Linked DNA regions of Homo sapiens: region 1 is linked to region 2. The links come from fine-mapping of genetic effects on gene expression. A gene starts in region 2. The other region holds a variant in brackets. All regions are shown on one strand. Distances are from middle to middle.

Region 1 (8,326 bases), 860 kb after region 2:
GTGGTAGTCGGGGAGGCTGCTGTCTGGAAGGAAGCAGGCTGCGAAGACGATGATGGCGTTGAGGCCTTCGCCGTAGTACCCTGAGGAGAGGCAGCCGATCGGCAACGTCAGAGTCCTCTCCCAGCCCTGAGCTGCCTCCCGCGCACCACCCACCACGTCCCGGTGCCCACACGCTCGGGAGGGCATGGCTCCGAGCCACAGCAGCCGGCGACCCCTTAGCCAGTCTCTGCCTTCGCTGAGGAGTGACAGCGACCATCAGGGGCCCCCAGTGCGCCTCCCTGACCATGCACGCCTTGCCCACAGTCCGTCCACCCGAAGCGAGTTGACGGCTTAACATCCCCGTGCATCAGAGAGGGGCACTGACGAACCCCCTGTTGCCCAGTGGGCCGGGCTGGAGCCCCAAGGGGGCACCGGGGGGCGGGTCTCACCTCCGTGGGTGACCACTTTCATGTAAGGCCGGATCATGTGCAGGTCTATACGGTGCTCTTGCTCCCCGATGATCACTGTCCGCCACAGGCGCCCGTTGGCGGCGCTGCCGTCCTCCGTCGTGCCGTCCCCAAATAGATCCGCGCTGTCCCCGGGCATGTTCTTGGCGGTGGCCACGGGGGTGTCGTCTAGAAGCAGGTGGCGGAGAGTCGCATGGACGCCAGAGTCCGGATATCTCCTGCCCTCCTGCTCAGCCTTCCTTCCCCTCTCCCACCTCCCTCGCTGCCGGGACCCACAAGTCCTTCGCTTCTCCCCACCTGGCTGCCCTGCTGACCCATTTTCCTCTCCTACTCCCCTTTCAAGGCCTGGCTCAAATGCCGCCTCCTCCAGGAAGCCTTTCTGGACATTCCCTTTGCTGGCCTCCCAGGGCACTCTGTTGGTTAAGGACCTGTGTCCTGGAGCTTCTCAGAGCTGGTGAATGCATCTGCTTCATCAAACCACGAGGATACTCGGGGCATGCATGCTTGGTTTTTACTCTCCCAGGAGCCTGGCACACAGAGAGCAGTCCTCCTGCCTCAGCCTCCCAGATACCTGGGACTACAGTTGTGCACCACCACACCCAGCTAATTTTTATATTTTTGTAGAGATGGGGTTTCAATATGTTGCCCAGGCTGGTCTCAAACTCCTGGCCTTAAGCGATCCTCCTACCCTGGCCTCCCGAAGCTCTGGGATTACAGGAATGAGCCACTACATTGTCCTTAATTTTTTTTTTTCTTTCTTTTTTTTTTTTGAGAGAGTCTTGTTCCATCGCCCAGGCTGGAGTGGAGTGGTGCGATCTCTGCTCACTGCAGCCTCTGCCTCCAGAGTTCAAGCGATTCTCCTGCCTCAGCCTCCCGAGTAGCTGGGACTACGCACGCCACCATGCCCGGCTAATTTCTGTATTTTTAGTAGAGATGGAGCTTCACCATGTTGGCCAGGCTGGTCTCAAACTCCTGACCTCAGGTGATCTGCCCACCTCAGCCTCCCAAAGTGCTGGGATTACAGGCGTGAGTCACTGCGCCTGGCCTTTCGTGGTCTGTCTTTCTGATGATCTGTGTGTGCAGGTAGGGACCAGGACCATCTCTTCTTATCATAGCCCTGCCATATACCCCACGCCTGAATCAGGACTTGCCCTGGAGTAAATGGTCAAAAAGTATTTGTTGCATACATCGAGGGCAGTTTGTTGGGATCTTGGTCGCCTTTGAGATTCTGATGAAAGCCACGTTCTGCAGAAAAATTCACAAGCCCACAAGAAAAATATGCATCAAATTGCAGGGGCAGGCTGGGCGCCGTGGCTCACACCTGTGATCCCAGCACTTTGGGAGGCCGAGGTGGGTGTATCACTTGAAGTCAGGAGTTTGAGACCAGCCTGGGCAACATGGGAAAACCCCATCTCTACTAAAAATATAAACATCAGCCGGAAGTGGTAGTGCATGCCTGTAATCCCAGCTACTCGGGAGGCTGAGGCAAAAGAATCGCTTGAACCCGGGAGGTGGAGGATGCAGTGAGCTGAGATCACACCACTGCACTCCAGCCTGGGCAACAGAGTGAGACTCTGTCTCAAAAAAAAAAAAAAAACAGTCGCAGGAGCGGATGGACCCTCCTCCTGGCACCCCTCCTATTCTGCTATCGAACAATAGAACTTATTCCTTCTGTCTAACTGTATGTTGGTACCCATTCACCAACCTCTCTCTCTCTTTTTTTTTTTTTTTGAGACGGAGTCTCGCTCTGTCGCCCAGGCTGGAGTGCAGTGGCACAATCTTGGCTCACCGCAAGCTCGGCCTCCTGGGTTCACACCGTTCTCCTGCCTCAGCCTCCTGAGTAGCTGGGACTTCAGGTGCCCGCCACCATGCCTGGCTAATTTTTTGTATTTTAGTAGAGACGGGGTTTCACTGTGTCAGCCAGGATGGTCTCGATCTCCTGACCTCGTGATCTGCCCGCCTCGGCCTCCCAAAGTGCTAGGATTACAGGCATGAGCCACTGCGCCCAGCCACCTCTCTCTTTTTTAAAAATTTTATTTTTGAGACAGGGTCTCACTCTGTTGTCCAGGCTGGAGTGCAGTGGCATGATCACGTCTCACTGCAGTCTTGATCTCCTGGGTTTAAGGCTAGACTGCTTAGAGCCCCTGCCCCACTTGTGACTCTCTGAGCCTATGGGAATCCAGAGACGGAAAGGTGGGGTGGGGGGGGTGGGCTCCAGCAGGCCCCAGAGAGACCCTGAACTTTACCTTCCCACTCCAGTTCGTTGCCATTCCCCAGGAACTCCAGCGAGTCGGTCTCATCGGGGGTCTCGATGTCATCCACGTTAATATCCAGGTCATCAGGGGTATCCAAGAAGTCATCGGACAGCAGGGACCCCTCACTCTGATCCAGAGAAATGTTGATCTCTGGGGCCACCAGCGTCTTCCTCTTACGATGCGCTCCGTTGAAATTTAGCGTGTTGGGAGGAGCTGCAGGGAAATGAGAAAAATGGAAAACATCTTTGCTTTCTCTCTTTTACCTTCCCCCCATTTTCCTACCTGGTGGAAGCTGTTTCATCATGCAGGAATGGGAAGAGAGGGTGGGCTCCCTTCTGTATCCATGCCATTGGCGGGGGTGGGCAGAATTAAACCGACATCATCCTGACAGGGGTGAATGTTATAACCTCTGTCCTGTGGGCAAGCCTCAGAGATTAAGGGGATGGATGCTTGGACATTGGGCAGACATGAGTTCAAAGCCTGACTTTGGGCCGGGTGCGGTGGCTCACGCCTGTAATCCCAGCACTTTGGAGGCCGAGGCGGGCAGATCACCTGAGGTCAGGAGTTCGAGACCAGCCTGGCCAACATGGCGAAACCCCATCTCTACTAAAAATATAAAAATTAGCCGGGCACAGTGGTGGCGCCTGTAATCCCAGCTGCTTGGGAGTCTGAGGCAGGAGAATCACTTGAGCCCAGGAGGCGGAGGTTACAGTGAGCCAAGATCGTACCATTGCACTCCAGCCTGGGTGACAGAGTGAAACTCTATCTCAAAAATAAATAAATAAATAAATAAAGGAGAAGAGACATATCTCTTGTGCAGACAAATTGTGAAAGCAGCCCATCTTCTTCTAGGCTTTCTCTGACTCTCACCCTCCTGTCTCCACTCATGAGGATCCTGTAACGATGTCAGGCCACCTGGATAATACAGGATCCAGGATAGTCTCCTATTTTAATCAGAGTGCTCCAGGGAAACAAATCCAATAGGACGTGTGTGTGTGTGTGTGTGTGTGTATACATATTTTTTTCCTATATGTATGGAAAAAAAGAGAGAGGGAGAAATTTATTTTAAGGAATTAGCTCGTGTGATCACAGAGACTGACAAGTCCTCAATCGGCAGGGCAGGCCAGCAGGCGGGACGCCTAGGGAAGAGTTGATGTTGCAAAACCGTCCGCAGGCAGAATTGTCTCTGCCTGGGGGAACCTCAGTCTGTTTCTCTTAAAACCTTCAACTGATTAGATGAGGCCCACCCACATCACAGATGGCTGCCTGCTTTAATCCAAAGTCTGCTAATTTATTTTGTTTTATTTATGTATTTATTTTTTTGAGATGGAGTCTCACTCCGTTACCCAGGCTGGAGTACAATGGTAGGATCTCAGCTCACTGCAACCTCCGCCTCCCAGGTTCAAGTGATTCTCCCACCTCAGCCTCCCAAGTAGCTGGGATTACAGGCATGCGCCACCAAGCCCGACTAATCTTTTTTTGTTTTGTTTTGTTTAGACAGAGTCTCGCCTTGTCACCCAGGCTGGAGTGCAATGGCACAATCTCAGCTTGCTGCAACCTCCGTCTCCTGGGTTCAAGCGATCCTCATGCCTCAGCCTCCTGAGTGACTGGGATTACAGGCAAGTGCCACAATGCCCGGCTAATTTTTTTTTTTTTTTTTTTTT[G/TG]TATCTTTAGTAGAGACGGGGCTTCACCATGTTGGCCAGGTTGGTCTCAAACTCCTGACCTCGTGATCTGCCCGCCTCGGCCTCCCAAAGTGCTGGGATTACAGGCGTGAGCCACGGTGACCTGCCTTTTTTTTTTTTCTTTTTAAATAGAGACAGGCGGCCGGGTGCAGTGGCTCACGCCCGTAATCCCAACACTTTGGGAGGCCAAGGTGGGAAGATGGCTTGAGCCCAGGAGTTCAAGAGCAGCCTGGGCAACATAGTGAGACCCCATCTCTACAAAAAACTACAAAAATTAACCAGCCATGGTGGTGTGTACCTGTAGTCCCAGCTACTCAGGAGGCTGAGGCAGGAGGATCTCTTGAGCCCAGGAGGTTGAGGCTGCAGTGAGCCATGATCACGCTACTGCACTCCAGCCTGGGCGATACAGTGAGGCTCTGTCTCCAAAAAAATTTTGTTTGGCCCTCACAGGTTTATTTTCCATATTCTGCTTAACTGAATGTCGTTAAGTGGGGCTGGCTGCCAGGTCCTCCCCAGACCCCACCTCTCCCCACGGTGCCAACCTGGGCCCTTTCCCTGCCTCCGGAGGCACGTTGCAATCGCCAGGTTACGGCTAAAACTCTCCTCTGGCCGCCCAGGACTCCCATCCCCGGGATCTGGGGCTTCAGAGCCTGATACATTATGATTTTTTTCCTCTGCTGAAGAAAAAACATGCCAGGCGTGGTGGCTCACGCCCGTAATCCCAGCACTTTGGGAGGCTGAGGCAAGAAGATGGCTTGAGCCCAGGAGTTCAAGAGCAGCCTGGGCAACATAGCTAGATCCCATTTCTACAAAAACTACCAAAATTAGCCAGCCATGGTGGTGTGCACCTGTAGTCCCAGCTACTCAGAAGGCTGAGGCAGGAGGATCTCTTGAGCCCTGGAGGTTGAGGCTGCAGTGAGCCATGATCACGCCACTGCACTCCAGCCTGGATGACAGAGTGTGACCCGGTCTCCCAAAAAATGTATATATTTGGGTCTAATATAAGGTATTACACATTAAAATGTATATGTTTAGAGCTCCAGATAGCAGAGCCTCCCAGTGCACCCTTGGCTGTGCTGACTTTGTGCCTCCAGGGCATTTGGCATCACCTCATTTAATCCTTACATGCCCCCTCTGCGAGAAGCTCGCTACCTACATTTAGTAGATGAGGCATTGGGGCACAGAGAGGCTGAGTGACTAGCACAGGGACACACAGCAACACAGCGTGCTGGCTTCATGAGAGCGCCATCATCCATTGTGTCTCTCACCCACCACGGCCACTTCCACCATAGACCCCAGGACAGAACATTCTACCCACGGTGTGTGGCCTCTGACATTTCTACAGTTACAGCCCCAGGCAGGGCTGAAACCCGGAAACACTGAGCCTGTTTCCGCCCTTCTGTGGACGTGGAAACTTACAGGATGTGTCTTCCACCGGGCTGCCAAGCAGTTCCACCCCCGTCTCTTCTGGGAGTGGCCTGCGGACCCATCCAGGAACAGGCATCAGTCGCCGGGCACCAGAGATTCAGGCAGAGGACAGTGGAGTGGCCCAGACAGGTCCAGCCAGGCGAGTCAGACAAGAACAAAAGCAAAACACATTTAGTTCTGGAGAATCACTGGACCTAAATATATACATTTTTTTGGAGACAGAGCCTCACTGTATCGCCCAGGCTGGAGTGCAGTAGCGTGATCATGGCTCACTGCAGCCTCAACCTCCTGGGCTCAAGAGATCCTCCTGCCTCAGCCTCCTGAGTAGCTGGGACTACAGGTGCACACCACCACGGCTGGCTAATTTTTGTAGTTTTTTGGTTTTTTGTAGAGATGGGGTCTCACTATGTTGCCCAGGTTGCTCTTGAACTCCTGGGCTCAAGCCATCTTCCCACCTCAGCCTCCCAAAGTGTTGGGATTACGGGCGTGAGCCACCACAAGCGCATGTTTTTTCTTTTTCTTTTATTTTTTTCTTTTGAGACAGAGTCTCGCTCTGTCGCCCAGGCTGGATGGAGTAGAGTGGCATGATCTCGGCTCACGGCAACCTCCGCCTCCCGGGTTCAGGCCATTCTTCTGCCTCAGCCTCCTAAGTAAACTGGGACTACAGGTGCCCGCTACCATGCCCGGCTAATTTTTGTATTTTTAGTAGAGACGGGGTTTCACCATATTGGCCAGGCTGGTCTGGAACTCCTGACCTTGTGATCTGCCCACCTCGGCCTCTCAAAGTGCTGGGATTACAGGCATGAGCCACCGCGCCCGCCCAGCATGTTTTTTCTTTAGCAGAGGAAGAAAATTATAACGCATCAGGGCTGAAGGGCTTCTTTTAGATAATCAAATTTATATTAAGCCTTTTGGAGATTTTTGCACGGCTTGAGGAGAATGAAGGTTTTTCCCCAGCATCACATGACTTCAAAAACTTTGAAATAAGTTAGTAAGTTGAATTCTCTCTAGGGCGACCCTGTGGGATTTGGTCTCTGATGAGTTGTTGACTCTCAAATGCAGCAAAAAGTATTAAAAATAAATAAATAGATAAAACCCCCACAAAAACCTGAGTCAACCAGAAGAGATCTCTATGTCAATGCTGGAACAGTTTGTGCAACCAAATAAATAATGAAATATTGAATTATAACCCAAGATGTAAAATAAATGTCTATGAGTCCATACGGATATAAATAAGTCACTGAACAAATAAACAGGAGAGAAGAGACACATTTCTTGTGCAGAAGAATTGGAAATAGTTTATGTACAGTTCTGCCCTCAAGAAGATGAAGGATAGGCCGGGTGCGGTGGCTCACGCCTGTAATCCCAGCACTTTGGGAGGCCGAGGCGTGCGGATCACGAGGTCAGGAGATCGAGACCATCCTGGCTAACATGGTGAAACCCCGTCTCTACTAAAAGTACAAAAAAAATAGCGGGGCGTGGTGGCAGGTGCCTGTAGTCCCAGCTACTCAGGAGGCTGAGGCAGGAGAATGGCATGAACCCAGGAGGCGGAGCTTGCAGTGAGCCGAGATCGTGCCACTGCACTCCAGCCTGGGCCACAGAGCAAGACTCTGTCTCAAAAAAAAAAAAAAAAAAAAAAAAGATGAAGGATAACTCTGTGTAGGCTGTGTATAGTGATGTCATTCCAAAAAATACAGGATGGGCCAGGCGCAGCAGCTCACGCCTGTAATCCCAGCACTTTGGGAGGCTGAGGCAGGAGGATCACTTGAGCTCAGGAATTCGAGACCAGCCTGGACAACATGGTGAAACGCCATCTCTACTAAAAATACAAAAATTAGGCAGGCATGGTGGAGGACACCTGTAATCCCAGCTATCAGGAGGCTGAGGCAGGAGAATCGCTTGAACCCGGGAGGCGGAGGTTGCAGTGAGCCGAGATCGTGCCACTGCTCTCCAGCCTGGGTGACAGAGTGAGACTCCATCTCAAAACAAACAAACAAACAAAACTATCAAGGGCATCAAAACAAGAAAGACAGGGAGACTGCCACAGTCCAGAGGAGTGTCAGGAGATGTGATAACTAAATGTCATCTGGGATCCTGGATGGGGTTGTGGGGCAGAAGGAAAAGGACATTAGGCCAGCCTGGGCAACATGGCGTAACTCTGTCTCTACAAAAATTACAAAGATTAGCTGGACGTGGTGGTGCCTGTAGTCCCAGCTACTCTGGAGGCTGAGGTGGGAGGACTGCTTGAGCCTGGGAGGCGGAGGCTGCAGTGAGGTATGATGGCACCACTGCACCCCAGCCTGGATGACAGAGTGAGACCCTGTCTCTTAAAAAAAAAAAGAGAGAAAAGAAAAAAAAAGAGGACATTAGGAAAAACTTTGAAAATCTAAAAAAGCATGGACTTTGGTAACTAATAACCAATATTGATCAATATTGTTATTGATCAATGTTGATTATCAATAACCAATAGTATCAATATTGATTCATCAATTGTGACAAATATAAAATATACACA
Region 2 (8,326 bases):
CTATGAGAATGTCAATACAGACTTCACGTGGGAAATGGTGAGGCAATAAGGATCGTTTCCCTTGATGAAATGGAGCTTGCAGAAGAAGGCAGGGTCAGTTGTGGGGAGCTCTGGTTGGAGGTGGAGGGAGTGCATTCCAAGCTGCAGGAACAGCAGAGGCAAAAGCCCTGAGGCTGGAGAACAGGTAACCATGTGCAGTTTTTCACTTGATTAGGGTGTTGCAGAGAATTGGGAGTGAGTCTTATATATTTATTTATTTATTTATTATTTTTTACTGAGATGAGGTCTTGCTATGTTGCCCAGGCTGGTCTCGAACTCCTGAGCTCAAGCTATCCTCCCACCTTGGCCTCCCAAAGTGCTGGGATTACAAGTGTGAGCCACCATGTCTGGCAAAGGTGGTGAGCCTTTATGATGTCATAAGTCACCACTGGGCACAAGTTCACACTTGTCCTATGATTGGCCCATGACACTGATGGGTAGCAGACAGGAAAGGAATCTTTTCTGAAACTTTTTTTTTGAAACAGGGTGTTGTTCTGTTGCCCAGTCTGGAGTGCAGTGGTGCAGTCATGGCTCACTGCAGCCTTGATCTCCCAGGCTCAAGTGTTCCTCCCACCTCCTAAGTAGTTGGGACTACAGGCATGTGTCAACTCACGGGGTCTCACTATATTGCCCAGGCTGGTCTCAAACTCCTGTACTCAAGCAATCCTCCCATCTCATCCTCCCAAAATGTTAGGATTACAGGTATGAGCTCCCACACCCAGCCCACTTCTGGAACTTTTATTGAAAAGTATCCTTAGGCTGGGTTCGGTGGCTCACACCTGTAATCTTGGCACTTTGAGAGGCTGAGGCAGGAGACCATGTCTTTACAAAAAAGAAAAAAAAAATGTTTTTTGAGACAGAATCTCTCTCTGTTGCCCAGGCTGGAGTGCAGTGGTGCAATCTTGGGTCATGCAGCCTCTGCCTCCTGGGTTCAAGGGATTCCCATGCCTCAGCCTCCCGAGTAGCTGGGACTACAGGTGTGTGCCACAACGCCCAGCTAATTTTTGTATTTTTAGGAGAAATGGAGTTTCACCATGTTGTCCAGGCTGGTCTTGAACTCCTGGCCTCAAGTGGTCCACCTGCCTTGGCCTCCCAAAGTGCTGGGATGACAGGCGTGAGCCACCCGGCCAAAAAAATAATAATTTTTTTTTTAATAGAAAAGTACCCTGAGAACTCTGGTCTAGGGAGGGCTTTAAATGTCATTCCCTCATTGGGTCTCCCAGGAAAGCGCCATAAGGTGGTTAGAGGTCTTGGGTTTAGAGTCAGGTATGTTCTATCTCCAGGCTTGTGGGGGCGTACGAGTGATGTGACAAACCCCATACATGGTGCATGGCTGTATGAGCACAGGATGTATGTCCTTGTTTGCTTCCCTCCTTTGCCTGTGCCTGTATCGCCTGGAGTGAGCCAGCCCCCCCACTCCGAGTGGAAGCGATTCTTCCCCGACCTCCCCGGTTCTCCCCCACTGGCCAGCCCATTGAAGGCGAAGGTCGAAGGGAGTCTGCGCTATGAGGCCGGCTGTGACTTGTTGTCGTAGTACATCAGAACAACAAAATCACTAGTCTTCCACACAGCACTAGACCACAGCCACTCTAATCTTCTTCACCACCCTCTGCCCCATGTCTGAGACCCCTGCCCAGCTCCTCCTTCTCACCTGAGCCAAGCTATGACACCTGAGTTTCCTGCCTCTGTGCTGCCTCCCTGTTTTCCATTCCCGGTTCTCCTGGAGAGAAGCAGGGTCTGATCTCCAAGGGCCCACCTCCCACCCAGGCACGTCAGAGACATGGGATTTGGAGTTGGACTGGTGGGGTTGACTTACAGCTTCACTTGTGGGCTGAGAGTCCCTGCGTGGGTTATTTTTCTGCCTTTCTCAGGGCCTTGGGTTCCCCAAATGTCACATGGGCACAGTAACACCCATGTCCTAGGGTTGAAGATGGCATGATATGATGTATGTAAAATGCTTGGCACAAGGTTTCTCACCGAAGTCTGGAAGAGACACCATAATGTCATCTTAGCAGGCAGCTGTTACCCCAGTGAGGTATCTTACCTGTTGAAAATTCCGGACTTGGGCCAGGCGCAGTGACTCACGCCTGTAATCCTAGCACTTTGGGAGGCTGAGGTGGACGGATGAAGAGGTCAAGAGTTTGAGACCAGCCTGGCCAACATGGTGAAACCCCGTCTCTACTAAGAATACAAAAATTAGCCGGGAGTGGTGGCATGTGCCTGTAATCCCAGATACTCGGGAGGCTGAGGCAGGAGAATCCCTTGAACCCAGGAGGCAGAGGTTGCAGTGAGCCGAGATCGTGCCACTGCACTCCAGCCTGGGCGACAGAGCAAGACTCCGTCTCGAAAAAAAAAGAAAATTGCAGACTTCTGTGTGTGCTTATCTGGAAAATACTTTGTTTAAAAATCCATTACATGAGGTGCAGGTCTCCAGAAATGCCAGGCACCTCAGACCACCCTCTCTCGTCCTCCCCCTGCAAAATCAGGGTCAAAGGGCTCTCCCGTTACCTGGAGGAGCTGTCCAGGGTTCTGGAGACGAAACGGAGCCCGCTGGGAACTGTCCTGAGCCCCGGTGCTGAAACAGATCGCGGTTCTCTTCTCGGACCTCCCGAGAGGCGCTGTCCGGATATTTGGTGCTGAAATAAATAGCATTCTCCTCCTTCGGTCGGTGGAGAGCTGTCCCTCGTGCTGAAGAAAACTTGATTTTCCTCTCTCTTTCCCCGTTCCCCCACCCCTCTTCGTTCTCGGTTCCTCCGATTCTTGGGAAACCCCACCCCCACTCAATTTATTTCCCCTCCTAGCTTCTTCCTGGGGAGCTTCAGAATGGCAATGGGGTGGCGGGGGGGAGACACAGAGGGGTCGCAACTAGCACTGATACCTGCTCCTCACCCTGTACCATGTCCCCAGAACTTACCTCCCAAGCAGTCAGCCCTGCTGGTCTCTGCTTTCCAGACCGTCAAACTTCGCCGTCTCTGTCCCTTTCTGGGAAAATGTCCATGCGCCAACCTGCAAACCAGCCTCATTCCCGGCATCCCACGTCCCTCAGACCACCCCTCCTCCCACGCAGCTGCGGGCCTCCCCCTCTGTGTGCCTCACCTGCTTCCAGTCTTGTTGGCAGATGCAGGTGTCCCGTGGCTGCCGAGGCGGGGACCTGCGCTTTTATAGGCTTCAGGGAAGGCGGAGCGCCAGGAATCCTGGGAGGGGCTTCCCCAACTGGCCAATGGGATTCCGCCTCAGAATGAAGCTCCAAAGATTACCTCATAGGTTGTGGCCCACGCTTCAGAATAAAAGTCTGGCATCTGCCCAAAAACTGGGCTAGGGGATTTTTTCGGATGGGGAAGGAGCATTCATTGTGGACCATGGAGTCTCCCCACTCTCTCCAATCCCCTCCTGGGTTCCTGAGCTCCAAGTTCGTTCAGGTGTCCTGGCTGGTACCTGTTTCTTCCCATTCCCAATTTTTGCTATTGCTCCTGGTTCAGGAAAGAAAAAGCTGGTAAACTGTTTTGGGAAAAAATAAGGGATGTGGAGAATATTAAAGTCCAGTTCCACCTAGGGCAACTGACGTCTGTGAAAATGGAGGGCTCAGAAGACTCTGGGGCAGAGGTGGGACTTAAGCCTGAAGCTTTTGATTCCTTAACTCAAAACCCAATTTATAAAATTCAGCTTATTGTAGTGCTATACTGGGCAGGCTCTGAACCAAAAAACGAAGAAACTGGGGTTCAAGTTCAGATTTTTCTTCTCCTTCCTTTGGGACATTGGGCACAGTTGTGCCTCAGTTTTTGCAACTGTGAAGTAGTGATAATAGTAGAGTATTTGCTGAGGAACTAATGATATGGTGTGGATTGCATGTTAGAAATAATCAGGGCAGGGGCTAATGTGAGTTGGGTGAGGCACCAGCCTCAGGTGCAAAACTTAAAGGGGCACCAAAAAACTCAATAATCAAGGTAAATAATATTTCAGGCCAGGTGCAATGGCTCATGCTTGTAATCTGAGCACTTTGGGAGGCCAAGGTGGGAGGATCACTTGAGGCCAGGATTTCAAGATGAGCCTGGGCAACATAGTGAGACCCCGTTTCTGAGAGAGAAAGAGGGAGAGAGGGAGAGAGAAAGAGAGAAACAGAGAGAGAGAGAGAGAGAGAGAGAGAGAATGGCACCTGTGGTCTCAGCTACTTGGGAGGCTGAGGTGAGAGGATCACTTGAGGCCAGGAGGTCGAAGCTGCAGTGAGTTATGATTGCACCACTGCACTCCAGCCTAGGTGACAGAGCAAGACCCTGTCTCAAAAAAAAATCGATGCAATGTTTTAAGAAATCAAAATGTATGCCAAAATCCACAATGAACAAAATATCAAAAATGTAAATAAAGGCAGAACCAGCCTTTCTGACTTTTCCTTTTGCCTGAGGTCCCAATATGGCTTGGCATGGCACTAGCAATCATGTCTGTTTACGGTAAGTTTTCTAATAATGCAGCTGTTATTCTTTCCTGATCTATTCCACCCATTTATTTGCTCAACAAACTTGTTGTACTAGGCACTGGAGATACATACATGAATTCAGCAACCAACCTTGCCTTTAGGGAGGGTAAAGACATGAAAACTCTGCTCACATGTTGGTATGGGCATTGGGTTGAAGGAACAGTCAGTGTAAGGGCCCTGGTGGGGGTGGGGGAAAGAACAGGCCCTGGGGGGTGAGCAAGCATAGAAGGGACAGTTAGGATATAAATCAGGGACAGCTGTACAGGACCTGATCATTCAGGCCAGGACAAAAGTGAAGTTCCTCAGGTTGCACAGGAAGACCTGCCACCCTTTCTCTCTCCCCTTCCCTAAGCTTTTACTCTGTGCCAGGGTCAGTGCCAGACATTCTACCTGCTGAGTGATCTGAAGGCCTCAGGGCAGCCCCATGAGATAGATCCCAGCCAGGTGCGTTGACTCACCCCTGTAATTCCAGCACTTTGGGAGGCCGAGGCGGGTGGATGACCTGAGGTCAGGAGTTCGAGACCAGCTTGGCCAATATGGTGACACCTCGTCTCTACTAAAAATACAAAAATTAGCCGAGTGCGGTGGCGGGTGCCTGTAGTCCCAGCTACTACAGAGGCTGAGGCAGGAGAATCGCTTGAACCCGGGAGGCAGGGGTTGCAGTAAGCCAAGATCATGCCACTGCACTCCAGCCTGGGTGACAGAGCGAGACCTTGTATAAAAAAAATAAAAATAATAAAAAAATTGAAAAAGGGCCGGACATGGTGGCTCACGCCTGTAATCCCAGCACTTTGGAAAGCAGAGGTGGGTGGATCACCTGAGGTCGGGAGTTTGAGAACAGCGTGACCAACATGGAGAAACCCTGACTCTACTAAAAATACAAAATTAGCCGGCATGGTGGCACGTGCCTCTAATCCCAGCTACTTGGGAGGCTGAGGCAAGATAATCGCTTGAACCCAGGAGGTGGGGGTTGCAGTGAGCCAAGATTGTGCCACTGCACTCCAGCCTAGGCAATAAGAGCAAAACTCTGTTAAAAAAAAAGAAGAAGAAGAACAAAGAAAGGAAGGAAGGAGAAAGAGAAAGAGAGAAAAAAGAAAGAAAAAGAAAGAAAGAAGAAAGAAAGAAGAAAGAAAGAAAGAAAGAAAGAAAGAAAGAAAGAAAGAAAGAAAGAAAGAAAGAAAAAGAAAGAAGGAAAGAAAGAAAGAAAAAGAAAGAAAGTTCTTTTTGGCTGGATGCCTGTAATCCCAGCACTCTGGGAGGCCAAGGCAAGTGGATCACCTGAGGTCAGGAGTTTGAGACCAGACTGGACAATATGTTGAAACCCCATCTCTACTAAAAATACAAAAATTAGCTGGGCATGGTGGTGCATGCCTGTAATCCCAACTACTCAGGAGGCTGAGGCAGGAGAATCGCTTGAACCCAGGAGTTTGAAGTTGCAATGAGCCAAGATTGCACCATTGTACTCCAGCCTGGGCAACAAGAGCAAAACTCCATCTCAAAATAGACAGAGAGAGAGAGAGAGAGAGAGAGAGAGAGAGAGAGAGAGAGAGAGAGAGAGAAAGGAAAGCAGGCCTTTTGACTGGGCACAGTGGCTCATGCCTGTAATCCCAGCACTTTGGGAGGCCAAAGCGGGCAAATCACGAGGTCAGGAGGTCGAGACCAGCCTGGTCAACATGGTGAAACCTCGTCTCTACTAAAAATACAAAAAATTAGCTGGGCATAGTGGCGGGTGCCTGTAATCCCAGCTACTTGGGAGGCTCGGGCAGGAGAATCACTTGAACCCGGGAGAAGGAGGTTGCAGTGAGCCAAGATCGTGCCACTGCACTCCAGCCTGGGCAACAGAGCAAGACTCCTTCTCAAAAAAAAAAAAAAAAAAAAAAAAAAAGGAAGAAAGACCTTTTTTTTTTTAAGACAGAGTCTTAGTCTGTGACCCAGGCTGGAGTGCAGTAGTGCAATCATGGCTCACTGCAGTCTCTGCCTCCTGGCTCAGGCAATCCTCCTACTTCAGCCTTCTGTAGGTGTGCACCGCTATGCCCAGCTAATTTTAAAAATTATTTGTAGAAACAGGGTCACCCTATGTTGCCCAGGTTGGTCTTGAACTCCTGGGCTCAAGCAATCCTCCCACCTTGGCCTCCCAAAGTGCTGAAATTCCAGGCATGAGCTATCATGCCTGGCTGATATGCATGTTTTATAGATGGCTAGAGAGGGGAAGGGGCTTGCCCAAGGACCACAGGGAGAGGGTGTGGGAGTTGGGGACCCCAGTCTGCCAACCCCAAGGTTTAATCTCTTATCAATTGTTCATTTCATTTCCTGTGCCCTTCCAGAAGTACATGCATATATAAGTGTGTACATTCTCCGCCCACATGCACGTTTGCTACTTTTTATTTTTATTTTTTATTATTTTATTTTATTTTAGAGATGAAATCTCACTCTGTTGCCCATGCTGGAGTGCAGTGGCATGATCTCGACTCACTGCGACTTCTGCCTCCCGGATTCAAGCGATTCTCCTGCCTCAGCCTCCCGAGTAGCTGGGATTACAGGTGTCCGCCACCACACCCAGCTAATTCTTGTATTTTTAGTAGAGATGGGTTTTCACTATGTTGGCCAGGCTGGTGTTGAACTCCTGACCTCAAGCGATCCACCCACCTCGGTCTCCCAAATTGCTGGGATTACAGGTGTGAGCCACCACGCCTGGCCTGGCTTCCTTTCCTCAGTAGAATACACTGGAGAGCCATTCATGCTGTTGTGTGAACCCGGAGTTAGTTCCTTTTTATTATTAAGTAGTATTCCATCATGTGGATGAACTATGGCCTGTTTAGCTATTCATCAGTCCAAGGACATTAGGTTCTGGAACACCTTCTGTGTTTGGAGATTATTAGGAATAAAACTGCTATAAATATTTTCATGCAGGCTTTCATGTGGGCGATAAATTTTCACATCTCCAGGGTAACACCTAGGAGGGTGACGGCTGGGTCATATGGGAAGTGTATATTTAACTTCATAAGAAACTGTCAAACTTTTCCAGAGCGATTGTATTTTAGTAGAGATGGGGTTTCACCACGTTGGCCAGGCTCGTCTCGAACTCCTGACCTCAAGTGATCCTCCTGCCTTGGCCTCCCAAAGTGTTGGGATTACAGGCGTGAGCCACCACTCTCAGCTATAGCTGGCATTTTTATAATAACTTTCTGTGCACTGGGCCCTTGCTCATTCAGGCTCTGCTCTTGTCTATTCACTTGGAATCTGAGCTTCCCAGAGAGACCCCTTTGTTCAGTTTTTCTCCTCTCTGGGTCTCTGTGTTCTGTAACATTTCCTTGTGTCCCGGGAGATAGACAGGTGTGGGTGGGCAGAGGCGAACGAATCTATTTAGAAAATGGCCCCACGACTCCAGTTAGGAACAGTAGCTAATTATCTCTGGGAATAACAAGCCAGCAATGAGTATTAATTAATAGCTCATCAGGGTAGAAAAGAAAAGTCTAGGAATAAGGGCCTTGGGTGATTCCTCCTCCCTGTATGTGCGCGTACACACACACACACACACACACACACACACACACACACACACGCAGCCCCTTCCTCAGCCGTTACTATAGAGACCTCTTTCCTGCCACCCTCATGAGCATTTACAAATCAAGACTGCACAGATGGTGACCTCAGCGGGTCTGTTGTTCTTTCTTCTAAGGACAATTTCTGGAGCCCTGAGGATTAAGGAAACAGGGCTACTCTGGACAACATCTGCCTGGGGCCCCGAAACCTGACCTGCAGCCTGGGCAAGGGGAGATTAGCAGAGGCGTTTACCTAGAAGAGGCAGGGCATGAA

The links. PIP is the estimated chance that this variant, and not a neighbour inherited with it, causes the effect.
Region 1: its variant is fine-mapped to the expression of MIR7-3HG in prefrontal cortex (CommonMind, PIP 0.95).

The regions. Positions count from the first base shown.
Region 1 is chr19:3,900,022-3,908,347 of GRCh38, reverse strand. It overlaps ATCAY (ATCAY kinesin light chain interacting caytaxin), which reads right to left. Exons shown (of 13, transcript NM_033064.5): 3 at 5,803-5,861; 4 at 2,693-2,914; 5 at 429-614; 6 at 1-80. Among named protein-coding and RNA genes, the nearest start is that of ATCAY, 24 kb to the right of the region's middle. The variant G/TG (reference allele first, on the strand shown) is at 4,366.
Region 2 is chr19:4,763,979-4,772,304 of GRCh38, reverse strand. MIR7-3HG (MIR7-3 host gene) reads right to left here and starts at 3,200. Exons shown (of 3, transcript NR_027148.1): 1 at 2,954-3,200; 2 at 2,548-2,675; 3 at 1-141. It overlaps MIR7-3 (microRNA 7-3), which reads right to left and starts at 1,635; the gene lies at 1,526-1,635. RefSeq lists a silencer at 2,474-2,768.